Regions from separate parts of the Homo sapiens genome. Here regions 1 and 2 are each linked to region 3. Evidence: fine-mapped expression QTL. A gene starts in region 3. Each other region holds a variant in brackets. All regions are shown on one strand. Distances are between the middles of the regions. Region 1 overlaps GTPBP4 (GTP binding protein 4). Region 2 holds the start of IDI2 (isopentenyl-diphosphate delta isomerase 2). Region 3 holds the start of IDI1 (isopentenyl-diphosphate delta isomerase 1).

Region 1 (8,181 bases), 35 kb after region 3:
GAGTGCAGTGGCACGATCTCGGCTCACTGCAACCTCCGCCTCTGGGCTCAAGCAATTCTCCTGCCTTAGCCTCCCGAGCAGCTAGGATTACAGATGCCCACCACCACGCATGGCTAATTTTTGTATTTTTAGTAGAGATGGGGTTTCACCATGTTGGCCAGGCTGGTCTCGAACTCCTGACCTCCTGATCTGCCCACCTCGGCCTCCCAAAGTGCTGGAACTACAGGCTTGAGCCCCTGCGCCCAGCCCAGCCCTGGTAAATTTTTAAAATTGCCACATGTAATCCAGAAGTGTGATTAACTAAAGTCCTTTCCTCAGCTATAATGTTGATTGTGTGACTTGATAACTTATCCGTGGTGGCTCTTGGACCCCTGTGTGTCTTTGGAGCTCCAGGAGCACACGGACCCCTGGGCAGGTCCCTCCGACCCCACAGCTCTTCACCCCAACGCTCCCCAGCAGGTGCTTTTGAGGTGGCATTGGCGGTGTTTTTGTGTTTTACTGAACATGTAACTTCAGGGACGGGCCACAGAAATAGGAGAATGCCCATATTTAATTGCCTAATGCCTCCAGCAACATTTTACTCCCCCAAAAGTATTTTTGCTTTAAAACAAAATAGAAATGTCATGTTGTTTGCCTTTTTATTTGGCCAAATCCATAGCGACTATAACTAAACCAAAACATGAGCTAAGTAAATGAAAACTACTTTCTTCTGGAGGTTTATTTTGGATAAAATAGTTGAAGACAGACTACAATGAGACATTGTAAAATAAGACTAGAAAATAATTTAAGAGCGTATTTTAAGCACGGGATTCCGACACACTCATAAACGTGTTTGCTCCCAGCTCTTACAAAAGAAAATAAGGTTTTTCTCCATCAAAAACAACCTAGTTAAACCAGTAAATCTTCCCAGTTCTGAAAATCTGAAGCAACTGATACTCCATTAAATGTGGAAACACTGTCTACTCAAAATATTTGTAATATTATGCAGTGACAAAAATTTCCCACACCTATATAGGGTTAACCATAGTTTTCAGCAAAGCAACAAGTGCTTTACTTATTTTGTCTTTTTCAGTTTATACAGAGCTCCAATTTCATGAAACCATACTGTGCCAAACCAGGAAATAAACAGCAACACTCTAGCGAAGCCACGCCAACCAAACGGATACTATCTCCTGTCCTTTTTACCAGCTTTCCTCTTCCCAGACAGCAAGTGCTTGGGCTTCATATCAAACACGTGTCTATCCGCCTCCCCTTTCTTCCCCAACCGATTCATCTTCTTCTGAGCATTCTTCATCATAGTCTTGGCTTTCTTCACCATCTAAAAGGAGGAGAAAAAAATAAAGTATGTTCATTACTTAAAACCAATTTTCCATTCTGAATTTCAACTACTGGGTAACAATCTGTTTAATGGCTCAGGTCTGCTCAGCGAAGAGACCCTGTTACATCTCTTTTCTCTTAAGCCCAGCACAGTTATCCCTGTTACATCTCTTTTCTCTTAAGCCCAGCACAGTTACCCCTGTTACATCTCTTTTCTCTTAAGCCCAGCACAGTTACCCCTGTTACATCTCTTTTCTCTTAAGCCCAGCACAGTTATCCCTGTTACATCTCTTTTCTCTTAAGCCCAGCACAGTTATCTGCAGGAACTCAATGAGTATTTTTGTATAAAGACTGGATGAAAATCATACCCAGGACAAGCTTTATACCCAGGACTAGATACACTTTAGACCTAGAAGGTTAGCACACATCTGTTTTAACTCCCTCTTACACAAGCTAAGGACTCAGGCCCATGAACCTGTTTTCCTCAGGTCTGACTGACAAGTGGCAATGCCAATATTAACAGCCAGGTTTCAAGATGGCAATGGCACAGAGGAGTGAAGCTCAGGCTTCCATGAAGGAGACTGCAGTTTATACACAGACTCTCCTGCATCTCCATTACCACAACGCTGAAACTAAAAGTTGTTGTGTTTAATAAAAGGACGTTTCAGCAAGACAGACTGTGTCCATCTTAAGTGTCTTTGCCAAAAGACGCTACAAATAAACTAAATGTGACTCAAGCTCTCCACCTGGGGGGAACAATCCTGCAACCTAAGGATGAGCAGGATCACCCGCCAATCAACCCAGGAGTTCCCTCTGCTGTTCCTCCCATGGGGGGCTTGCTGGACTTGAGGCCTCCTGGTGCTCAGCTGTGGCCACTTCCTGGCCCTCTTCAGACAGCAGGGTCTAAGCCCAGACTGCTAGTGCTGTCAGACCATGCTCTGGCCACCCTCCGCAAAAGCAAAGTGCCAAGGAGGGGTCCATCCAGGGCAGCTGTCAGGGGCATCCACCTGCACCCTGACCCGTGCTCTCCTCTAAAGGATGCCACAAAACGAGGGCATGCAGTACACACAACCCCTGCCATAGTTCCTGCAAATGGCAACTGCTGGTGTTTGCCCTGAACCCTGTGCAATAAACAACAGAGACTGTCATTTTATTACATTACACAACACAGAGACTGACCTTGACATCCCTAAGACCAGAAACGTCACGTGGAGTTCGAGAGCAACTCCCACTCCGGGCCACAGAGGACGGGGGAGCAGAGTCTTCCCGCTTTCTTTTCCTAGTGATGCTCCGGGATCTTCTTGCCTGGACTGCGTAATGGGCCTGCAAAGCAGGGGAAGCAATGCTCAGCGCTCAGGACCCCAGGTCCACTCCCAGGCTCAGTGCTCAGCGCTCAGGACCCCAGGTCCACTCCCAGGCTCAGTGCTCAGCGCTCAGGACCCCAGGTCCACTCCCAGGCTCAGCGCTCAGGACCCCAGCCCCGCTCCCAGGCTCAGCGCTCAGGACCCCAGCCCCGCTCCCAGGCTCAGCGCTCAGGACCCCAGCCCCGCTCCCAGGCTCAGAGCTCAGGACCCCAGCCCCACTCCCAGGCTCAGCGCTCAGGACCCCAGCCCCACTCCCAGGCTCAGCGCTCAGGACCCCAGGTCCACTCCCAGGCTCAGCGCTCAGGACCCCAGGTCCACTCCCAGGCTCAGAGCTCAGGACCCCAGCCCCGCACCCAGGCTCAGCGACAGGCATGAGGTCACTCCAGCAAGAGGGGAGGAGAGGAGCGTCTGAACCATTAACACATGGGCTAAAGGTCTTGAAAATACACGCAGTATTTTCATATTAGTGACACCATTTCAAGTTCACATTAGTAACAATTTCACATTAGTT[G/A]TTGGTCAAATATTCTTATTCACTTAACGGAAGCTGCTTTACGTAAGAAAGCTGATTTTAACTCCACTTAAAGAAACTTAGAACTCTCATTTAAAAGTGATTATTATAGTATAGCATCACAATTTATATTTCAGATATAAACAATGCTCTCTCCCTCACTGCCCCATTTTGGGGGTTACTGATATGAACACAAAGGGACAACCATCAGACAGAAACCATCAGACGGAAACTGCAGACTGCACATCTAGAGGACAGGGTCTGCAGCCACACCCTGGGCACGTCATGGTGCTGTCTCGTGCTGGCTGTGGAGCTTTTTTTTTTTTGAGACACAGTCTTGCTCTGTTGCCCAGGCTGGAGTGCAGCCTCAATCCACCACTTCAACCCAGACCCAGGGTCAGGGAATCCTCAACCCATCACTTCAAGTCAGTCCCAGGGCCAGCGAATCTCAAAAGAGAAAAACTGGAAGCTCTCATTTCTTTTTGCTGTAATTTCCCACGTTCCCACGGCTTTCCAAAACCCTGGTTTCTTTCTTTCTTTTTTTTGAGATGGAGTCTCACTCTGTCGCCCAGGCTGGAGTACAGGGGCACGATCTCAGCTCACTGCAATCTCTGCCTCCCAAGTTCAAGCAATTCTCCTGCCTCAGCATCCTGAGTAACTGGGATTACAGGCACACGCCACCACGCCCGGCTAATTTTTTGTATTTTTTTTAGTACAGACTGGGTTTCACCATGTTGGCCAGGCTGGTCTCGAACCCCTGACATCATGATCTGCCCGCCTTGGCCTCCCAAAGTGCTGGGATTACAGGCATGAGCCACCACGCCCGGCCAGTTTTCTTTATTAAAAAGGTGTATCCAGCCACATAAACACATGAACCGCCCCCACACTCACATCGTCTTTATCGTCCATGTCAACACCAAGACTACGCATCTCCTTCTCCAAAACTGTCCTCTGAACCTGAGAAGGATAAAAAGAAATATTAGCTTTAAATTAGTTTGATGAAATGTTGAAAAAAACTTCAAGGCAATATATATGTATACATATTTTGCAACAATTATAATATACTTATTTTAGAAGTTGTAATTTTTATTGGGCCCCGCTTTCATGTTTTTGGATAGCTCAATTAAATCCCACGAAAACTAACATTAACAGAGCAGTTGCTGTGGGAAGAATCAGCGTATCCTCCACGTCTGTCCATTCTTCACCGCAACACGGGGGAGAGAGTGACCGTCTCCATCAGAGGTGAGACACTAAAGCTGAGGTTAGTGAGGTGGCCTCAGACAAAGGCAGTGCGCCAACCTCTCTCCTCCCAGAGATGGCTGAGCCCCACCTGGAGAAGTACAAAAATGTCCAAGTCCGCCATAACCAGTCACTTGCCACCATGTGAAAACAGTGTATTCAAACAGGAAGACCCACTGAGAGGCATCCTGAATGTCAAGTGACTTCTCTGGTTACATGTTAACTGCCCTGCATGTGGGCTTTCTTCCCCCAGTCCCACCCTGCCACAGAGCCAATAAATTGCCTTTTGTAGACTGCGTCAGGTTTCTGTAAATTGCTAAAGAGTCCAGATTTTTTTTTAAATTTTTTATTTTTTGAGATGGAGTCTTGCTCTGTTGCCCAGGCTGGAGTGCACTGGCACAATCTCGGCTCACTGCAAGCTCTGCCTCCCGGGTTCACACCATTTTCCTGCCCCAGCCTCCCGAGTAGCTGGGACTACAGGCGCCCGCCACCACGCCCAGCTAATTTTTCTGCATTTTTAGTAGAGACGGGGTTTCACTGTTTTAGCCAGGATGGTCTCAATCTCCTGACCTCGTGATCCACCCACCTCAGCCTCCCAAAGTGCTGAGATTACAGGCGTGAGCCACTGCGCCCGGCCTAAAGAGTCCAGATTTAATGCAGAAATTAAAGAACAAGAAAACCAGCCGGGCGTGGTGGCTCACGCCTGTAATCTCAGCACTTTGGGAGGCCAAGGCAGGCAGATCACTTGAGGTAAGGAGTTTGAGACCAGCCTGGCCAACATGGTGAAACCCCATCTCCACTAAAAATACAAAAGTTAGCCAGGCGTAGTGGCAGGTGCCTGTAATCCCAGCTACTCGGGAGGCTGAGGCAGGAGAATTGCTTGAACCCGCGAGGTGGAGGCTGCAGTGAGCCAAGATGGCGCCATTGCACTCCAGCCTGGGAGACACAGCAAGACTCCATCTCCCCCCTAAAAAAAAGAGAGAGAGAAAAAAGAAGAGGAAAATGTTCACTGATAGCCTTGAACGTCTGTGAACCATAAGTTACAGTTTTAATCTGTACAACTGCAAAATGACTGGATCTAGAGTAGTGCCAAACTCGAAGCTGAAAGTCACCAAGAAAGGACGCAGTAAAGAATATAAAAGATCAATACGTGAGCGATCTTGCAAATCCATACACCAATAAAACAAGAATGTGCAATCTTATGGCCATAAATGGGTTGAAAAGTTGTTATTTAGCAATGATCACACAGGAATCCAATTTTCAAAAACTAGATCACACTGCTTTGGAAAGACACAAACTTGCCTTCTTAGCAGTTCGCGGCATCCTGGGTCCCTGTGTATTCTTTTCTTTGGACTCCAGAATTTTCAACTTCTTTTTCTCTCGAATTTGCTTTGCCAGCTGTCGGATTTCCAGCATCTCTTCGTCTTCACTCTCAGATACACTGTCATACTCTCCAGCAGCTGTTCTCAGCTCTTCTTCTTTTTCTAATTCTTCCAATTTCTTTAAAAATGGAGTTGTAATGAAGCAAAATTAACAATGAGAAAACCCCTGAGTCAGTGAGTGTGGCAGAGTGTGTATGGGAGCTTTGTTTCCCTGACTCAGAGGAGAGCGATTGCCCTGGTCCAGACCCACCTGGGCCCTGCCTATGTGCCATTTACCTCACAGGGAGGGTTCTGTGAAGAAAATGGAGACCACGTGAACGCCAGCCGCCAGCAAGTCAGTAACCCCTGTGCACCATTTCCTTTTTTTAAAACAATTAAATTCCAAGGCTAAAAATGTGCAGAGACCGCCTCCTTCACTTCCAATGCTCCCGGCAGACACACACAAGGAACTCAGTCCTGAGACACTGATTTCGTGCCACATCCCACGTGTCCGTTCTAATGTCACCCCAAATACAACCTCACTGGCTACAAATAAGACAAAAATGAAAACTAAAACACACACGTTTATCACCCCCCAATGAGGCAACCCGGCCAGGAGCCCAGCAGGCAGATGTGCCTGTACGAGATGCTGGCCAGCAGTGCAGAGGGTGAGACGGGGGCCAGGCCTCGTGGAAGGGGATGGCACGGGCACAGCTGTGCGGAGGAGGGAAGTCTCAAGGCTTCTTGCGCCCAAGAGCGCGCACTGCAGAGGGGAAGAGGCTGGGAAGGCAGGCGGCCACCGCGGGGACAGTGAGGGCACGGGCTGGACTGGGGCCCCAGCAGAGGTGACAGCAGATGCCCTGAGGCCACTCCTCCAGCACCAACGAAATTGAGATTGTTGCCCCCAGAATCTGCTATCCCAGAATCTGCTATGGAGGCACAGGGAGCACAGAGACCACGAGACTGAAAATGTGAACTCAATGACGGAGGGCCTGTGGGAACCAAGGAGTGGCAACATGGGACATGCAGATGGCAAGTATTGTATAAAAAGAATGTTCCAGAGAGCTCAGCTGAGAGAAGAAGGCAGGACAGCAAGTATTGTATAAAAAGCATGTTCCAGAGAGCTCAGCTGAGAGCAGAAGGCAGGACAGCAAGTATTGTATAAGCATGTTAGCATGTTTCAGACAGCTCAGCTGAGAGAAGAAGGCAGGATAGCAACTAATGGAGGACACGGTCTAAGGATGTTTTCGTTTTTTAAAAAGATGAGTAAAACTTGTGGACTTTTATATGCTAAGAAAAAGCAAGTAGGGAGGGGATTGAGGCAGGAAAAAGATGTGACACAGCGGAGCCCCCAAGGAAGAGGGTCCAGCACAGCAGAGTCCATTAAGGGCCTGGCGGAGATACAGGGTGGGGAAGGTGGTGCAGGGGGCACAGTCAGGATGGAGGGATGCAGGAGAATGAAGGGGCCCAGCATCTCCACCAGAGTCTCGGGGTGGGGGGAAGAGGTGCAGGAGGCACAGTCAGGATGGAGGGATGCAGGAGAATGAAGGGCCCAGCACAGCAGAGCCCATCCAGGGCCTGGCGGAGACACAGGGTGGGGGGGAAGGTGGTGCAGGAGGCACAGTCAGGATGGAGGGGTGCAGGAGAATGAAGAGGCCCAGCATCTCCACCAGAGTCTCGGGGTGGGGAAGGTGGTGTAGGGGGCAGAGTCAGGATGGAGGGATGCAGGAGAATGAAGGGGCCCAGCATCTCCACCAGTGTCGGGACAGGGAAGAGGTGCAGGAGGCAGAGTCAGGATGGAGGGGTGCAGGATAACGAAGGGGCCCAGCATCTCCACCAGAGTGTCCGGGGTGGGTGGGTGGAGGCGGCGGGAAGGGGGCAGGCCAGCATAGCAGAGCCCAGCCAGGGCCAGTATCTCCACCAGAGTCTCAGGGTGGGGAAGTGGTACAGGGGGCAGAGTCAGGATGGAGGGGTGCAGAATGAAGCGGACAGGCCCAGCTGAGCCGAAGCCATGCTGCTATCTTCCAGCAATACTACTATAATAAAAAGGAAAACAATCCGCAATTTAAAAAGTGACACAAACCTTCATGATGGCTGGATCAATATAATCAGCTATATTATGGCCTTCCCAGATTTCTGGTATCTTATCATGTTTTTCAGACAAATTCATTAAATCCCAGTACTCTAAAGTTAAAAAAAAGGTGGTTACGTTTACAGCAGTTTTTAATATCTTCAAGTACTACGTGCGCAAAATGAGTTGTGACTGACGGCAAATCAACGACTCCACTGCAGAAGAGAGCACGACGTGCAATTCCACATGCAGCAGCATCAACACATCAGCCTCATTCAACACCCACACGTGGAGAAAGCTACAGAAATCACCCCACCATCC
Region 2 (8,181 bases), 25 kb after region 3:
ACATGGATCACCCATCATTCTAGGTGGAAAGCAGAGGATTAGGGTTGTACAATGCCTAGGAGATGGAGTGATGGTGTTGGGAGTGGCTGTTCTCTTCTGCATGCAGCAGTTTTCTCAGAGATCTGAGAAGTTTACCCCAGTGTCGACGATAATGTGTCAGTATTTCTGGAACATGGCAAGCCCTTTCCATCTGTGGGTTTAAGTCATCTTGTGTGTCTGGGATATTTTTCTTTATTATTATGGCTCTCTTGTTCAAGGATACCCCTTTTAGCACATGCTGTATTTGTTTTACCCTCTCTTTCATACCTACAATACTTGGCCTACTCCTTTTTAACTCTTTCCACTTCCATTTCTTTTTACCTGCTTTTCCCAGTCTTGGCCTCCATGTCCTTCTCTATATTTCACTGATATCTAGAGCCCTTTCTGTTGCTTCTAATTTGCCTTAATCAGATGTAATCATCTATTCCTAGAGTTTATTCTTAACCTCCTACCTGCAGCATTATAGGTCATCAACTGTCATTCTTAAAGTTGTCATAACCTCTCTTAAGAAAATTCTCCGCATATAGCCTAATCAAAATGTCTTCCTTCCTTTCCTTTATAATGTTTTTTGTGTGCTTTATGTGTCAGAACCTTGTACCCAGATCAACCTAGCAAAGGGTTTCCCTCCTTTTTTATCCCCTAGAACATTTTACAGAGAATGACAATTCCTTCCTTGAAATTTTGATAACATTTGCCTCTAAAGCTTTCAGTGCTTAGTTTGGTGGTGACGATCCCAACATGTTAAACTGCACAGATTCTGGGGGCTCAGCTGCATCTGCAGCCACATTGCCTTGGGCAGGTAATTTACCTCTCTGTGCTTCAGTTCCTTATCGATGCTGTGATAATAAAAAATAACGCTTATCTCAGAAAGCTGTCGTGAGGACCAAATGAATTAATATACATTAAACTCTTAAAATAGAAACTGGCACAAAGGAAGGACACAATGTGTGTCTGGCTGTCTTACTATTATTATTATTACTATTAGAGTTGTTGGATTATAATAGGTACGGTATTGTATATTAGTTTCTTCCTCAAAGCCTAATTCATAGACTTATTTATTATTTTTTAGATCTTTAAAAGAGTATCATTCTCCCATTCTTACTCTTCTGACTGCAAAAGAAACAAGTTTCAAACAGACCATTTATTCCTGAGTCTCAGAACTGATTTCCAGGGAAAACATTTCAGGCATAGCCTTTTGATTTTCTACGTAACTAAAAATTACATGCATAAAGGTGAACTTATGGAAAGACAAAAGAGCAAAACACATTAATCTTTTTATAGAATATTACCCATCACTGCTGCTGTGTTATTTTTGTTCTGTATTATCCGTGCCAAAGTCAGCGGAGTCATGCGTCCATCGTGCTTCTCTCCTCATATTCCCTGAGAGAACCGACAGATATGGCAAACATTTTTTTGATATTTTAAGAGACCCTACTTGCAAAACTATTTGGCCTAGAGCTTTAGTTGGTAGATGATATTTGGAATATGATAGGCAAGAAATTATACAGTTTTTTAGCTCTTCCAAACACATTGGTTTCCAAGGTCTTGCATTTATTTATCGATTTTCAGCTATCCTAAGAATTTATTCAGTAATTTTAGTCACAATGTTTATTATTTTTCTCTTCCATTTGCCACCTTTATTTTTTCTTTTTAAAATCTGGGATGATATATACAGCAAGTGAATTAAAAAGATGCCATCGAACGGCGCCGTGGCTCACACCTGTAATCCCAGCACTTTGGGAGGCCGAGGCGGGCGGATCACCTGAGGTCAGGAGATGGAGACCAGCCTGGCCAACATGGTGAAACCTCGTCTCTACTAAAAATACAAAAAAATTAGCTGGGCGTGATGGCGGGCGCCTGTAATCTCAGCTACTCGGGATGCTGAGGCAGGAGAATCGCCCGAACCCGGGAGGCAGAGGTTGCAGTCAGCCGAGATCACGCCACTGCACTCTGGCCTGGGCAACAGAGCTAGACATCACCTTAAAAAAAAAAAAAAAAAGAAAGCCATAGAGTAGAAAATAACTTACCCTAGGTTTAAAAACTAAAAGCATTTTTTAAAGTGAGATTGTGTCAAAACAATTTTCTATTATCCCTCAATTGAGAGGGAGAAAGATAGAGAGAAAGAGATGGAGAGATAGAGAGAGACCGGGGTGTGTTTTCTTGTTAAGAATACAAAAATATCAGATTGCCTTAGCTGATATCTTTCTACATCCCCAGGGTATAAAAGGGCCCTGGTTCAACTTGCACATTGAGTTCCACATCTGATACCCAGGAGTCTCCAGCTTCCAAGAGAGGTTAGTGCATATGTTTTACCTTGTGGGAATTCTTTCTTTTATGATCTAAATTTGTACATATTCAGTAATTGTTTTCTCTGCATTTCTATTGTATCTCATGTCCATGCATTAAGTCAAACAGCCTTTTGCAAAGAGGAGGAGCAGATTGCTGAAAATATTAACAGTAATGATAATGGACAGACGTGAATGCATTTTTTTAAAAAGTAGAAAAGGATGATGAGAAGGTTTTACATGAAGATAAATGACCCTGAAAACATTTTTTTTTTTTTTTTTTGAGACAGAGTCTCACTCTGTCTGCCCAGGCTGGAGAGCAATGGCACGATCTCGGCTCACTGCAACCTCTGCTTCCCAGGTTCAAGTGATTCTCCTGCCTCAGCCTCCTGAGTAGCTGGGAATACAGGCATGTGCCACCAGGCCTGGCTAATTTTTGTATTTTTTAGTAGAGAGAGGGTTCCACCATGTTGGCCAGGCTGGTCTCAAACTCTTGACCTCAAGTGATCCTCCCACCTCGGCCTCCCAAAGTACTGGGATTACAGACGTGAGCCACCGCTCCTGGCCCTGAAAACATTTTGTGAGAAGATCTTCACCTAAGAATCTGCTTGGCTCTGAAGAGGACCATAGCCCTTCTGTGGGTGACGTAGCTTTCCTACAAGGCTGTGTGTTTCTCCACGTCTGATCCAGGTCCAGTGGTTTTGCACAGGGCTGCACTTTTCCCCAAAAACTTGTACAAAGAGTGTTACCTACAGTTTACCTCGGTGTGTTTTGTGTGTGTGTGTGTGTGTGTGTGTGTGTGTGTGTGTGTGTGGTGGGGCGGGGATTCTTTAACTCGTCACTAAAGGAAACCTGGAAAACATGAGGAGTATGTATGTACCCAAGATTTCCCGTTCAGAGAGACACCACATTAGAAACAGATGATTCACCTTCCATATCTCAGAACTGTGCTGCTTCAACACAATTGCTGTCACTTGTAGAGAAGGTGTATGCTAAATCCTAATGTGGTTGGTAACACATAGCAAAAACGAGATGGCAATATCTTTCACATAAA[G/C]AGGCATTTGTGTGCATCTATTTCAGGTCGGGTCACAGCCAGCAGCTATGTCTGACATAAATCTTGACTGGGTTGACAGGCGTCAGTTGCAGCGCTTGGAGGAAATGCTGATTGTTGTGGATGAGAATGATAAGGTTATTGGTGCCGACACCAAGAGGAATTGCCATCTGAACGAAAACATTGAGAAAGGTAGCCCCCGCCCATTTTCTCTGTCCAGTTCCCAGGGTTTTCCCATTTTTCCCACCCGACGGCAACCTAAGAAGAGAGTCTAGGCCTTTCCGGCTAGGAGGCGACCACTGGGTCACCTGTGTGCTTGCTGTGCCGTCTTTAGAAGGCTCGGGGAGCAGCACCTGGATGACGTCTTTGCTTGGTCAAGCCCTTGTCAGGCTCCTGCACCTTCTCCTAGGCATCCGTGCTCTTCCTCGTAAGATCCTGTTTCAGCAAGAATTCTACCAGGTTGTTTTAGCGAGAACCCTGACCTTGGCATCTGATTAAATTCCTCAACCCCGTCCCTCCCAGGTGACGTCTGATCACGCAGGCCTGTCTTCAGCAGGTCTTGTTAGGTCGGTGTAGCCAGAACCCCCTTCCCACTGATGTTTTCTCTTAGTAACTTTTAATCCATAGGCCCCAGCCTGCTCCTTGGGTGTTGTGTGCAGTTAGGCTGGTTCTCCATGGAGGTCTCTTTCCCCTATTGAAATGGTTCTCAGTAAAGTCAGACTTTCCTGCTTTAACTCCTGTCCAGCTCTGGTTTTCTTTGACCATCTTAAGCCATTTTATTATTTTTTAATTTTCATTTTTGTGTCTTTTTTATAAACACATAATAATTATGCATATTAATGGGGTACATGTGATAGTTTGATACCACCATGTCATGCATAATGATCAAATAGGGCATTTTGGGATATCCATCACCTCAAACATTCATCATATCTTTGTGTTGGGAACATTCCAAATCCTCTGTTCTAGCCACATTGAAACATATAATACACTGTTGTTAACTACAGTCACCCTACTGTGCTATTGAACAGCTGATATTATTCCTTCTCTATCGCGGTATGTTTATACTTATTAACCACCCTCTCGTCATCCCTCCCCACTGCCCTTCGCAGCCTCTGGTGTCTAGCATTGTGTTTTCTGCCTCCATGAGATCAACTTCTTTAGAGCCCACATAGCAGTGAGAACATGTGATACTTGTTTTTCTGTGCCAGGTTTGTTCCACTTAACACAATGGCCTCCAGTTCCATCCATGTTGCTACAAATGACAGGATTTCATTCTTCTTTTTTTTTTTTTTTTTGAGACAGAGTCTTGCTCCATTGCCCAGGCTGGAGTGCAGTGGTGCAATCTCAGGTCACTGCCAGCTCTGCCTCCTGGGTTCATGCCATTCTCCTGCCTCAGCCTCCCGAGTAGCTTGGACTACAGGCACCTGCCACCACGCCCAGCTAATTTTTTTGTATTTTTAGTAGAGACGGGGTTTCACCATGTTAGCCAGGGTGGTCTCGATCTTCTGACCTCGTGATCCGCCCACTTCAGCCTCCCAAAGTGCTGAGATTACAGGCGTGAGCCACCGCACCCGGCCCGATTTCATTCTTCTTTTGTGGTGGAATGGTATGCCACTGTGTATCTAACCCTCATGTTTTCAACCCTTCAAACCTCCACGGACACAGGTTGATCTCATATCTTGGCTGTCGTAAATGGTGCTCAGCACCCAGGAATGCTGCGATATCTCTCTGATAGACTGATCTCTTTTATTTTGGATATTTGCCCTGGTAGTGGGATTTCTGGGTCATCTGGTAGATCTATTTTTAGTTTCCCGAGTGTTCTAATCCGCTGAGATTCTGAAACGTTGTGTTTGGGCATCCAGCAGTCCCCTTTGCCCTGCCCAGGTGCCACAATCACAGGCTTTTCTACGAGAAACAGACTGAGGACAAAAAGCACGAAGGACAATCGTACAGACTCCAGGCATGCACTCACACAAATGGCACTTACCTTTGCAGGGCTGCTGCACCGAGCCTTCAGCGTTGTCTTGTTTAACACCAAGAATCGAATCCTGATACAGCAGAGGTCGGACACGAAAGTCACGTTTCCTGGTGAGTCCGTTCAACCAAGCCCCGGACTGAAGAGAGCATCTCATGTGACTTGACCGGAGGAATCTGGGACAGGAACTCTCTGGTGCTCAGTGCCGCACTGTGGTGAGCTGGCAGCTCATCCTGCAGAAAATCGGCAGCTTAGGCAGATGCTAATTATGCTGATAGCTCTTCAGTAGGCTGGGTTTTCTTTTTTAAAAAAGTAAGAAACTATATGAGTTTCTGGGTTTTTTTGTTTTGTTGTTTCTTTGCAACGGCAAGTTACTTAAATGCAGAGGAATTTATCAACCTAAGGATTTAGGGGATTAAAATAGCATTTAGCATAAAATTAACTAGGTAATAATAATAAAAATTATCTTACAGGTCTTAGAGTTTTAATTATCTTGTACTTCTTAAAATTACAACTTAAAATTTTTTTTTTTTTTTGGAGATGGAGTCTGGCTCAGTCACCCAGGCTGGAGTGCAGTGGCGCCATCTCGGCTCACTGCAAGCCCCGCCTCCTGGGTTCACGCCATTGTCCTGCCTCAGCCTCCCAAGTAGCTGGGACTACAGGCGCCCGCCACCACACCCGGGTAACGTTTTGTATTTTTAGTAGAGACGGGGTTTCACCGTGTTAGCCAGGATGGTCTCGATCTCCTGACCTCGTGATATGCCTGTCTTGGCCTTCCAAAGTGCTGGGATTATAGGCGTGAGCCACCGGGCCCGGCCAAAAAATTTTTTAGAGGGGAACAGCATTTACGTCAATTGTGGTCATTTAAAGTGTTTTGGCCTAGGCTGTCCTCAAATTTTCAAAACCAGACCTTGCCTGAGCCATTAAAGCGAATGGCTAAGCACGGCCAGCTGTGGCCGAGGTTTTCTCCTCCCTTAGTTCTTCCTCGGAGCCGCAGTGGGTACATCCTGCCCATTCCCAAACCCACCACCATACTTGCTGGTCAAGTTGTACTCACGGGCTCCTTGATGGAGCTGAATGCAAAGTTTGTTTCAGAAAAATTCAGGAGCTGCAAAGTTAAGAGGGTCAACTGTAGTACATAGTCAACAGTTTGCAAATAAAGCCCCTGGAGCTAAGATTTCCTATCATGTGTTAGCCGCCTCCAGGATACATAGGGGCAGGTGGGAGTACCAGCTCTTGTACTTGCAAGAGTGGATTCAACTTCAGCCAAACTCCTTGCAGAGTGACCGAAGGAAGCACTGAGGGTCTGAGGAACGAGAGGGAACAGAGATTTACTGAGGAGAGTGTGACCTCCCGTCATAGCGCTATTGCTGTTACTTGGGTAAATTAAGTAGAACCTCTCAGTAAGGAAACTTGGTCAAAGGTATTCCAGCAGTCTTCCTGTGAAACCATGCTCACTGATCACCACCCTCAAAGTGCAGCCCAGCTTCCTCAGCCCAGCTGGTGCAGCCACCCAGCCCACAGCCCCACCACCTCCTCCCGCCACCCCATGGCATCTCAGGTCCTCTGTGGGTACAAAACTGAGTAGGAACCAGTCCCTCTCCTAAGACATACTGGGATAGTGCCACGGGACATGTGTGTGCACATCTGCAGGAAGGGCCGCAGGAGCGGTCAGGGCCAGCCCCGCCAGGTGGTCATGTGGAAGACCCTCACCAAGCCCACAGCCGTGGAGGCTGGAGGCGAGTGCTGCTCTGAGAGCCCATGACAAACCCACTCCCCCCGCCAGGCTGTCTTCTGCTGATGACGGATGATGGTTTTACATGAAGCATCTGCATTTGTATTTAATATATTCACTTTTCAGGAATAAAGAGGGATGTTCCCACATGCATTTTTTCCAGGGTATTTTACCGACTCCTGTAGTAGCCACCCATTATACAACCCAGCAGAACTGGAAGAAAAGGATGCCATCGGAGTGAGGAGGGCAGCCCAGAGGCGTCTGCAAGCAGAGCTGGGAATTCCTGGGGAGCAGGTACACACAGCATCCAGTCTCAGCTGTGTCCACGGGAGTCCAGGTTGGCAGCGGGCAGACGGTGAACAAAGTCCAGGCTGGATCTACACCATTGACCTCATGAAGCACCATGAGGATGAAGGATGGGGCTGTGGATGGGGCTGTGAATGAGCTGTGAATGGGGCTGTGAATGGGGCTGTGAATGTAGCTGTGGATGGGGCAGTGTGAGTCCCTATGTGTCCCAGGCAGGGTTGAGACTGTGCAGGAATCTGTCGACCACACACCGAAGAGGAAATTCAAGCCGGGCGTGGTGGCTCACGCCTGTAATCCCATCACTTTGGGAGGCCGAGGCGGGCGGATCACAAGGTCAAGAAATCAAGACCATCCTGGCCAACATGGTGAAACCCCGTCTCTATTAAAAGTACAAAAATTAGCTGGGCGTAGTGGCACACGCCTGTAATCCCAGCTACTTGGGAGTCAGAGGTTGCAGTGAGCCGGGATTGTGCCACTGCACTCCAGCCTGGCGACAGAGCGAGACTCCATCTCAAAAAAAAAAAAAAGAAAGAAATTCAAGTGTAGAAAGAATGTCCAGGATCCTGTGAGCATGTGTTACCTTCATCCACTCAAGAACACGTTTAAGAGAGGATGGATGTTCTCCTGACAACGCTAGCCGGTTTCTACGGGGTTTTCTGTTGAGGATGTGTGTGTGACACGGTTAGTTCTTTAAATGAAGACAGACAGGTTTACTGGAACCAAGAAACCAAAGCCGGTTTATCATTCAGACTTGAGTCCACAAAAATTTACTTAGCTAAAATCGAGG
Region 3 (8,181 bases):
GTGAATGCAAAGGAAAAGTTCTTGAAGGAAATTTGAAGTGCTCCTACAGTGAATACACAAATGGTAAGAAAATAAAACAGCTTTATTGCTGATATGGAGAAACTCTGAGTGGTCTGTATAGATTAAACCAGCCACAATATTCTGATAAAGCCTAATCCAGAGTAAGGCCCTAACTCTCTTCAGTTTTCTGAAGGCTGAGAGAGGTAAGGAAGCTACAGAAGAAAAATCTGAAGCTATCAGAGGTTGGTTCATGAGGTTGAAGGAAAGAAGCTGTCTCTATAATACAAAAGTGCAAGATAGGCCAGGCATGGTGGCTTATGCCTGTAATTCCAGCACTTTGGGAGGCCAATGCAAGTGGATCCCTTGAGGTGAGGAGTTCAAGACCAGCCTGGCCAACATGGTGAAACCCTGCCTCCACTAAAAATACAAAAATTAACTGGGTGTGGTGGCACACGCCTGTAGTCCCAGCTACTCAGGAGGCTAAGGCAGGAGGATCACTTGAACCCAGGAGTTGGAGGTTGCTGTAAGCCAAGATCACACCACCACACTCCTGGGTAACAGAGTGAGACTCCATCTCAAAAAAAAAAATGTGCAAGTGCAAGATAAAGCAGCAAGTCATCTAGGAGATCTACCTAAGATCACTGATGAAGACGGCTTTGCTAAACAATAGGTTTTCATTGGAGTTGAAACAACCTTATTTTGGGAAAAGATGCCGCCCAGGACTGTCATAACTAGAGAGGAGAAGTCAAAGCCTGGCTTCAGAGCTCCAAAGGACAGGCTGACCCTTGCTAGGGGGCTAGTGCAGCTGATGACTTTATGTTGAAGCCAGTGCTCATTTATCATTCTGAAAATCCTAGAGTCCTTAAGCGTTATGCTAATTCTAGTCTGCCTCTGCTGTGTAGATAGAACAACAAAGCCTAGATGACAGCACATCTACTTACACAGTGTGGTTTACTAAATATTGTCAGCCCACTGTTGTTGAGACCTACTGCTCAGGAAAAAAAAAAGATTTCGTTTCAAAATATTACTGCTGATTTACAGTGCTCCTGTTCACCCAAGAGCTCTGATGGAGATATACAAGGAGATTCATGTTGATTTCATGCCTGCTAACACAACATCCCTTTTGCAGCCCATAGCTCAAGAAGTCATTTTGACTTTCAAGTCTCATTATTTAAGAAATACATTTTGTAAGGCTATGGCTGCCCGAAGATGTAACTGAATCACTGCACTAGCATAATAAAACATGAATGGATAAGCAGTTGCTTCTTGTGGATGAACAAAGAAAGTGGTCTCTTGAGATGGAACCTAATCCTGGTGAAGATGTGAACACTGTTGAAATGATAACAAAGGATTCAGAATACTCCATAGACTTAGTTTATGAAGTAGCAGCAGGGTTTGAGAGGATTGACTCTAACTTTGGAAGTTTTCCTGGCCGGGTGCGGTGGCTCATGCCTATAATCCCAGCATTTTGAGAGGCCAAGGTGGGCAGATCACAAGGTCAGGAGTTCAAGACCAGCCTGGCCAACATGGTGAAACCCAAGCTCTACTAATAATACAAAAATTAGCCGGGCATGGTGGCACACGCCCATAGTGCCAGCTACTCATGAGGCTGAGGTAGGAGAATTGCTTGAACCCAGGAGGTGGAGGTTACAGTGAGCCAAGATCGCACCACTGCACTTCAGCCTGGGCGAAAGAACGAGACTCTGTCTCAAAAAAAAGTTTTCCTGTGGTTTAAAAAAAATCTTTCATGAAAAGAATTGTCAATCAACGTGACAAATTTCATTATTGTCTTATTTTAAGAAACTGCAACAGCCACCCCAACTTTCAAGCACCACCTTGATCAACAGCCATCAACATTGAGGCAAAACCCTCCACCAGCAAAAAGATTATGACTCATTGAAGGCTCAGCTGATGGTTAGCAGTAAAAAATATTAACTTTAATCATCTCGACCATTCAGTACTCATCTAATATTCTCTATAACAAAATGGGAAATGCACATAAAGCACTTCTGCTACATGCTGAATTATGATTGTTGTCTCCAGGAAAAGAACTTGTGGGAACGTTTGAGTTGTAAGCTGAACTAACTAGCTGCTTTTTTCATGAAATACCGCTTTTACTGGAAAGAACTGACAGATAAACTGAGGTATTCAAACCTAGATATTTGGCAGACATTTTCGTGAAAATAAATATGTTCGTGCCACTTCAAGGAACATAATTCTCAGTACTTGTTGCCAATAATGTTGGAATTTTCATGCAAAAATTCAAATAAAAAACAAACTTAAAACCATCAAGAACTTGGTGACTTTATGTGGAAGCCAGTGCTACAATACTTTAGCTTCCCAATACTTAAAAACTTTTCTGATGAGATTACTAGTGATATTAACAATGTGATTGATATTGAATAATGAAATGTTTTAGCATTTGGAAGATCTGTTTAATTCAGTAAATCAGTATTTTCCAAATGACCAATGCATGACATTTCAACATCACGCACAGGAAAATAGGCATTCGAGGTACAGTCAAAAATAATGAGTTTTAATGTAACAAGTACAAAATGTCCATTGAAGTGGTTTCAAATTCCAAATAGTAATTGGAAAATCCACCACTCGTGTTTTGGGGTAGTAGTATCGAAAAAGAATAACCAAGATAATTTGAAAAGGCTATTAAAAAATACTTCTCAATTTTCAAACTGCATACAGCAGGTGCTCATTCATTTCTTTGTAACATTGATGAGAAAAAGACTCCCAGCCAGGGGCACTGTCTTTGTGGTGTTTACGTGTTCTCGCCACACCTGCATAGGTTTTCTCTGGGTGCTGCAGTTCTTGCCACATCCCAGAGGTGTGCACGTGAGGTGAACTGGTGTGTCTTCACTGTCCCAGTCTGAGTGTGGGTGTGTGAGTGGCCCTGTGATGGAATGGCGTCCTGTCCAGGGCTGGTTCCCTCTTTGTGCCCTGAGCTACTGAAACAGGCTTCAGCTACACATGACCCAGAACTGGAATAATTAAGTAATAATTATCTTTTTATTCATCTTTCTTAAATGTATGTATAGCTCACATTTATTTCAATGTTTAATATTAGAATACTTTGGCCTTTAGAAGCTTAGTGATTTTTTTTTTCCTTGGCCAGAAGTATGCTTTAGGAACTTAATCCTTATTTTTTAGCCTCTGGTAAAATTGGTTTTGCTATACGTTGTTTCACTTAAAAGTCCTGATTCCCAAGAACGCACTGACAGCAGTGAGGACTTGCTGCGCATGCGGGAGGCCAGATTTTCTTATCTGTGTGAAGCCAGACATGAAAGAGATCTGTCAACACATAAAACAAAATCAAAGTCTGTTTTTTGTCTGGAAAAGATTTTTAATAAAAATATAACTTATGTTAGTGTCGTGTGTTTTTTAAGTGAATATTTTAATATGTTTAATTTCTATGTTAGTAAATAGCAGTAGTAAACAACAGTGAGCAAAAGCTTTTAGGTGTCCTCAGTACATTTTAAGAGAGTGCAAGCGTCCTGTGACCAAGAAGTTTGAGAACTGGTGCCCACCAGGTTCATCTCACAAGTTCAGTATTTTAAATTCCACACAAAAGGTAGAGGAAATAGCTGAATTCGCTTCAGCTGCGCATACATTTCACGATTATTTAAAAGTTTAGAGGGCTAGGCGCGGTGGCTCACACCCGGAATCTCAGCACTTCGGTAAGCTGAGCCAGGTGGATCACTTGAGGTCAGGAGTTCCAGACCAGCCTGACCAACATGCGGAAACCCGTCTCTACTAAAAATACGAAATAAGCCGGGCGTGGTGGCGCATGCCTGTAATTCCAGCTACTTGGGAGGCTGAGACGGGACAATTGCCTGAACCCGGGCGGCGGAGGTTGCTGTGAGCGGAGACTGCACCATTGCACTCAAGCCTGGGCAACAAGAATGAAACTGTCTCAAAAAAAAAAAATTTAGAACGTAGTCATGTACCTCGAAAGCGAACACTCCCAACATAGCGTGGAACACCCCACACCCCCGGCGACTTTGCTCCGCCTTGGTCCCGGTCGCAGACACCGCAGAAAGGCCATCGTTCTAGACATACGAGAACTCCCCGTGCAGCCAAACGCTGTAGTCCCAGCGGCGGAACTCGGGGGGGGGGAGGGGGGGGAGTGCCCAACCAGCCAGTCAGCAGTGACGTCCCGCCTTTCCTCCGTTTCCATTGGTCCAGCCATGCGGAGGTCGCTCCCATGGGACGCCGAGCTTCCGGCTGCAGGGCTTGGCGCCCGGGCGCTTTCGGATTGGGAGGGCTTCCTCCATGGAACGCGAGCCTCGAGACGTCTGACGTTAGGCACCGTTCGCAGCGCCTCGGGCTCGCACGGCAGGATCGAAAGCGTGATTGGCTGGCGGCGTCTGTGGTCTCGGGCACCGCCCAGTCGCGGGACGCTGCCTCTGCGGAACTGGGGGTGGGGCGTGTTGACCCCCTTAAAGGCGCCAGAGCCCGCGGTCACGGCTCAGGTTCCCGGTGCTTCGCGCGTCTGCCGTTGTCACAGGCCAGGGAGGTGGCACCACCAGGCGAAGCTTGGCGAGATTGTGTCGTCAAGCGCGTACGGGCGCCAATTGGCCGGGCGATGTGGCGTGGACTGGCGCTGGCGCGAGCGATTGGCTGCGCGGCCCGGGGGCGGGGCCAGTGGGCGGTGCGCGCCGCAGACTGTGCTCAAAGCGGGCGCCATCCGGGACCGGCGGTTGTCTGTGGCCGGAGGCTGATCAGGTACTGTGGACGGGCGGCGGAGTTCGGGAGACAGGGGCAGGGCGGCATCGGGGAGCTGCGGGACGGGGCGGGGAGGAGGCCCGAGGTCTGAGCCACCCGTGAGGTCTCGGCGCGGAGGCCTGGACAGCTGGGGGTGGCGGCGTTGGTCTCCCGAACTGGAGGGAGGCCGGGCCTTCCCGGGCTGTGGTGGGCGCCCGCGCCCCGTGGAAGGCGGAGGCGTGAGTCGGGGCGTCAGAGACGTTGCCATTCTTTGTCAGCGGAAAAGATCGTCGTCTGCGCACAGTCACCTGAGGTTTAGGAACTCGTGGAACTGGAAACCGAGTCGCAGGAGACTAAGAGTTGCGAGTCTCCCCTTAGAGAATTCAGAAACAAGCGTAGACAGCATCGTCAGAAACACGAGCGTGACGACACCGGCCTCCCCGTGCCGAGTCCACGCGTGTGACGCGGGTGCATACACCTGCGTCCGTGCAAGAGGGTGACAGCAACACACTCAAGGCGCTTCTCCTGGGAATGGAGCAGGAGAAGAGATGGGGAGCATCGCATAGATGGAACTAGACCTTTTTCTTGGGTTGGATGATGTGTTCCCGCGTCTACTACATGGTATTCTTTAAACGCATAAATAGACGTATTCATTTTATCTTGTGATTATGCAGCTTAGCTTTAAAATCTGAATTCTGAAAATCCTGAAAGAGCAATTGTCATTACAGCTGGGCGGTGGTGCACGCCTTTAATCCCAGCACTTTGGGAGGCGGAGTCGAAGGCTGCAGTGAGCCGAGATCGCGCCACTGCACTCCAGCTTGGGCGACAGACATAGCAAGACCCAGCCCCATCCCCCCGGAAAAAAAGTCATGTCAAAAAGTCTAGTAATTATGTAGTAACGAAACCTATCTTAGTGATCACCTAATATACAGTTGGCCTACTGTATCCTTGGGGTCCATATCCATGGATTTAACCAACTGCACATTATAAAATATTTGGAAAAAAATTTCATCTGTACTGAACATATACAGACTTATTCTGTAAACAATACAGCACAACTATTTATGTAGGATTTACATGTTTTAGATACTATAAGAGATCATCTACAGATGATAATTTAACGTTCGGCCCGCATCACTTAACAGGGATACTTTGGAGAAGTTCATTGTTAGGTACTTTCATCATTGTGGAAGCAGAGTGCGCTGACGCAGACCTAGACAGTGGAGCAGCTGGGCTGTGTGGTGTAGACAGACGGTGGAGCAGCTGGGCTGTGTGGTGTAGACAGTGGAGCAGCTGGGCTGTGTGGTGTAGACAAAGGACCAGACAGTGGAGCAGCTGGGCTGTGTGGTGTAGACAGTGGAGCAGCTGGGCTGTGTGGTGTAGACAGTAGACAGTGGAGCAGCTGGGCTGTGTGGTGTAGACAGTGGAGCAGCTGGGCTGTGTGGTGTAGACAGTGGAGCAGCTGGGCTGTGTGGTGTAGACAGTGGAGCAGCTGGGCTGTGTGGTGTAGACAGTGGAGCAGCTGGGCTGTGTGGTGTAGACAGTGGAGCAGCTGGGCTGTGTGGTGTAGACAGTGGAGCAGCTGGGCTGTGTGGTGTAGACAGTGGAGCAGCTGGGCTGTGTGGTGTAGACAGTGGAGCAGCTGGGCTGTGTGGTGTAGACAGTGGAGCAGCTGGGCTGTGTGGTGTAGACAGTGGAGCAGCTGGGCTGTGTGGTGTAGACAGTGGAGCAGCTGGGCTGTGTGGTGTAGACAGTGGAGCAGCTGGGCTGTGTGGTGTAGACAGTGGAGCAGCTGGGCTGTGTGGTGTAGACAGTGGAGCAGCTGGGCTGTGTGGTGTAGACAGTGGAGCAGCTGGGCTGTGTGGTGTAGACAGTGGAGCAGCTGGGCTGTGTGGTGTAGACAGTGGAGCAGCTGGGCTGTGTGGTGTAGACAGTGGAGCAGCTGGGCTGTGTGGTGTAGACAGTGGAGCAGCTGGGCTGTGTGGTGTAGACAGTGGAGCAGCTGGGCTGTGTGGTGTAGACAGACAGTGGAGCAGCTGGGCTGTGTGGTGTAGACAGTGGAGCAGCTGGGCTGTGTGGTGTAGACAGTGGAGCAGCTGGGCTGTGTGGTGTAGACAGTGGAGCAGCTGGGCTGTGTGGTGTAGACAGTGGAGCAGCTGGGCTGTGTGGTGTAGACAGTGGAGCAGCTGGGCTGTGTGGTGTAGACAGTGGAGCAGCTGGGCTGTGTGGTGTAGACAGTGGAGCAGCTGGGCTGTGTGGTGTAGACAGTGGAGCAGCTGGGCTGTGTGGTGTAGACAGTGGAGCAGCTGGGCTGTGTGGTGTAGACAGTGGAGCAGCTGGGCGGTGTGGTGTAGACAGTGGAGCAGCTGGGCTGTGTGGTGTAGACAGACAGTGGAGCAGCTGGGCTGTGTGGTGTAGCCAGTTGCTCTTAGGCTGTTTTTCCTGTTGCTTCAGGCCTAAATTTGGACAGTGTGTGACTGTGCTGAATAATGTGGGCAGTTGTAACACAACAGCAAGTATTTGTGTATCTAAACATAGAAAAGGTGATGTGTTGTGCTCCGATGTTACAATGGCTACAACATCATTAGCAATAGGAATATGTCAGTTCTGTTATAATTTTATGGAACCACTGTAGTATATGCAGTCTGTAGTGTACCGAAACACCATCATGTGACACATGTATGTACACAGTGGATATACACAGGTGATCTGCAAATATTATGCCATTTTATATCTGAAACTTCAGCATCCTCAAATTTTGGTAGCTGTGGGAGGTCCTGGAACTAACTCCCATATATACCAAAGGATGACTGTATATAAAACTAGCCTATAGAAGTTGGAAATCTTTCTAAAATTGAGGCTAACTCTGAAGTTGACTTCCTTTTCACATTATTTTCCCTCTTGATTTGTTTTAATCATTAACCTTATTTCAGATTTTTTGTATTAGATATCAATATCTCCATCATCACTGACTCCTGACACACGCATTCACACACACACACACACACACACACACACCCAGACCCTATGTGGGTCTAGAACTTTGTATTAAGTAGCTGTTTAAACACTTTGTGTACATTCTGCAGTATGCTTGAACTCTGTTGAAAGTATTTCAGTGGTCCCCGTGTGGTGGCTCACTCCTGTAATCTCAACACTTTGGGAGGCCAAAGCAGGCAGATCTCCTGAGGTTAGGAGTTCGAGATCAGCATGGCCAGCATGGCAAGACTTCGTCTCTACTAAAAATACAAAAATTAGCCTGGCGTGGTGGTGCACGCCTGTAGTCCCAGCTACTTGGGAGGTCAAAGCAGGAGAATCACTTGAACCCAGGAGGTGGGGGTTGTAGTGAGCTGAGATTGCACCATTGCATTCCAGCCTGGGCAACAAAACGAGACTCCCTCTCAGAAACAAAAAAGTATTTCAGTAAAATCTATGTATTTGAAATAGAGTCACATAGAAAGTAGAGCA

The links. PIP is the estimated chance that this variant, and not a neighbour inherited with it, causes the effect. A credible set is the group of variants that fine-mapping cannot tell apart.
Region 1: its variant is the best candidate, but not a certain one, in a credible set for the expression of IDI1 in whole blood (TOPMed, PIP 0.60).
Region 2: its variant is the best candidate, but not a certain one, in a credible set for the expression of IDI1 in whole blood (INTERVAL, PIP 0.78).

Annotation. Positions count from the first base shown.
Region 1 is chr10:1,010,212-1,018,392 of GRCh38, reverse strand. It overlaps GTPBP4 (GTP binding protein 4), which reads right to left. Exons shown (of 17, transcript NM_012341.3): 13 at 7,873-7,973; 14 at 5,731-5,928; 15 at 4,081-4,146; 16 at 2,497-2,640; 17 at 1-1,318. The coding sequence ends at 1,166. Among named protein-coding and RNA genes, the nearest start is that of IDI2-AS1, 8.3 kb to the left of the region's middle. The variant G/A (reference allele first, on the strand shown) is at 3,193.
Region 2 is chr10:1,019,968-1,028,148 of GRCh38, reverse strand. IDI2 (isopentenyl-diphosphate delta isomerase 2) reads left to right here and starts at 2,290. Exons shown (of 5, transcript NM_033261.3): 1 at 2,290-2,333; 2 at 3,405-3,567; 3 at 5,374-5,466; 4 at 7,252-7,382. The coding sequence starts at 3,426. IDI2-AS1 (IDI2 antisense RNA 1) reads right to left here and starts at 5,512. Exons shown (of 5, transcript NR_027709.1): 1 at 5,366-5,512. The variant G/C (reference allele first, on the strand shown) is at 3,379.
Region 3 is chr10:1,045,420-1,053,600 of GRCh38, reverse strand. IDI1 (isopentenyl-diphosphate delta isomerase 1) reads left to right here and starts at 4,482. Exons shown (of 5, transcript NM_004508.4): 1 at 4,482-4,737. The coding sequence starts at 4,598. RefSeq lists enhancers at 3,834-3,973, 3,645-4,174, 4,434-4,483, 4,175-4,704, 4,705-5,235 and silencers at 4,574-4,793, 4,804-4,893.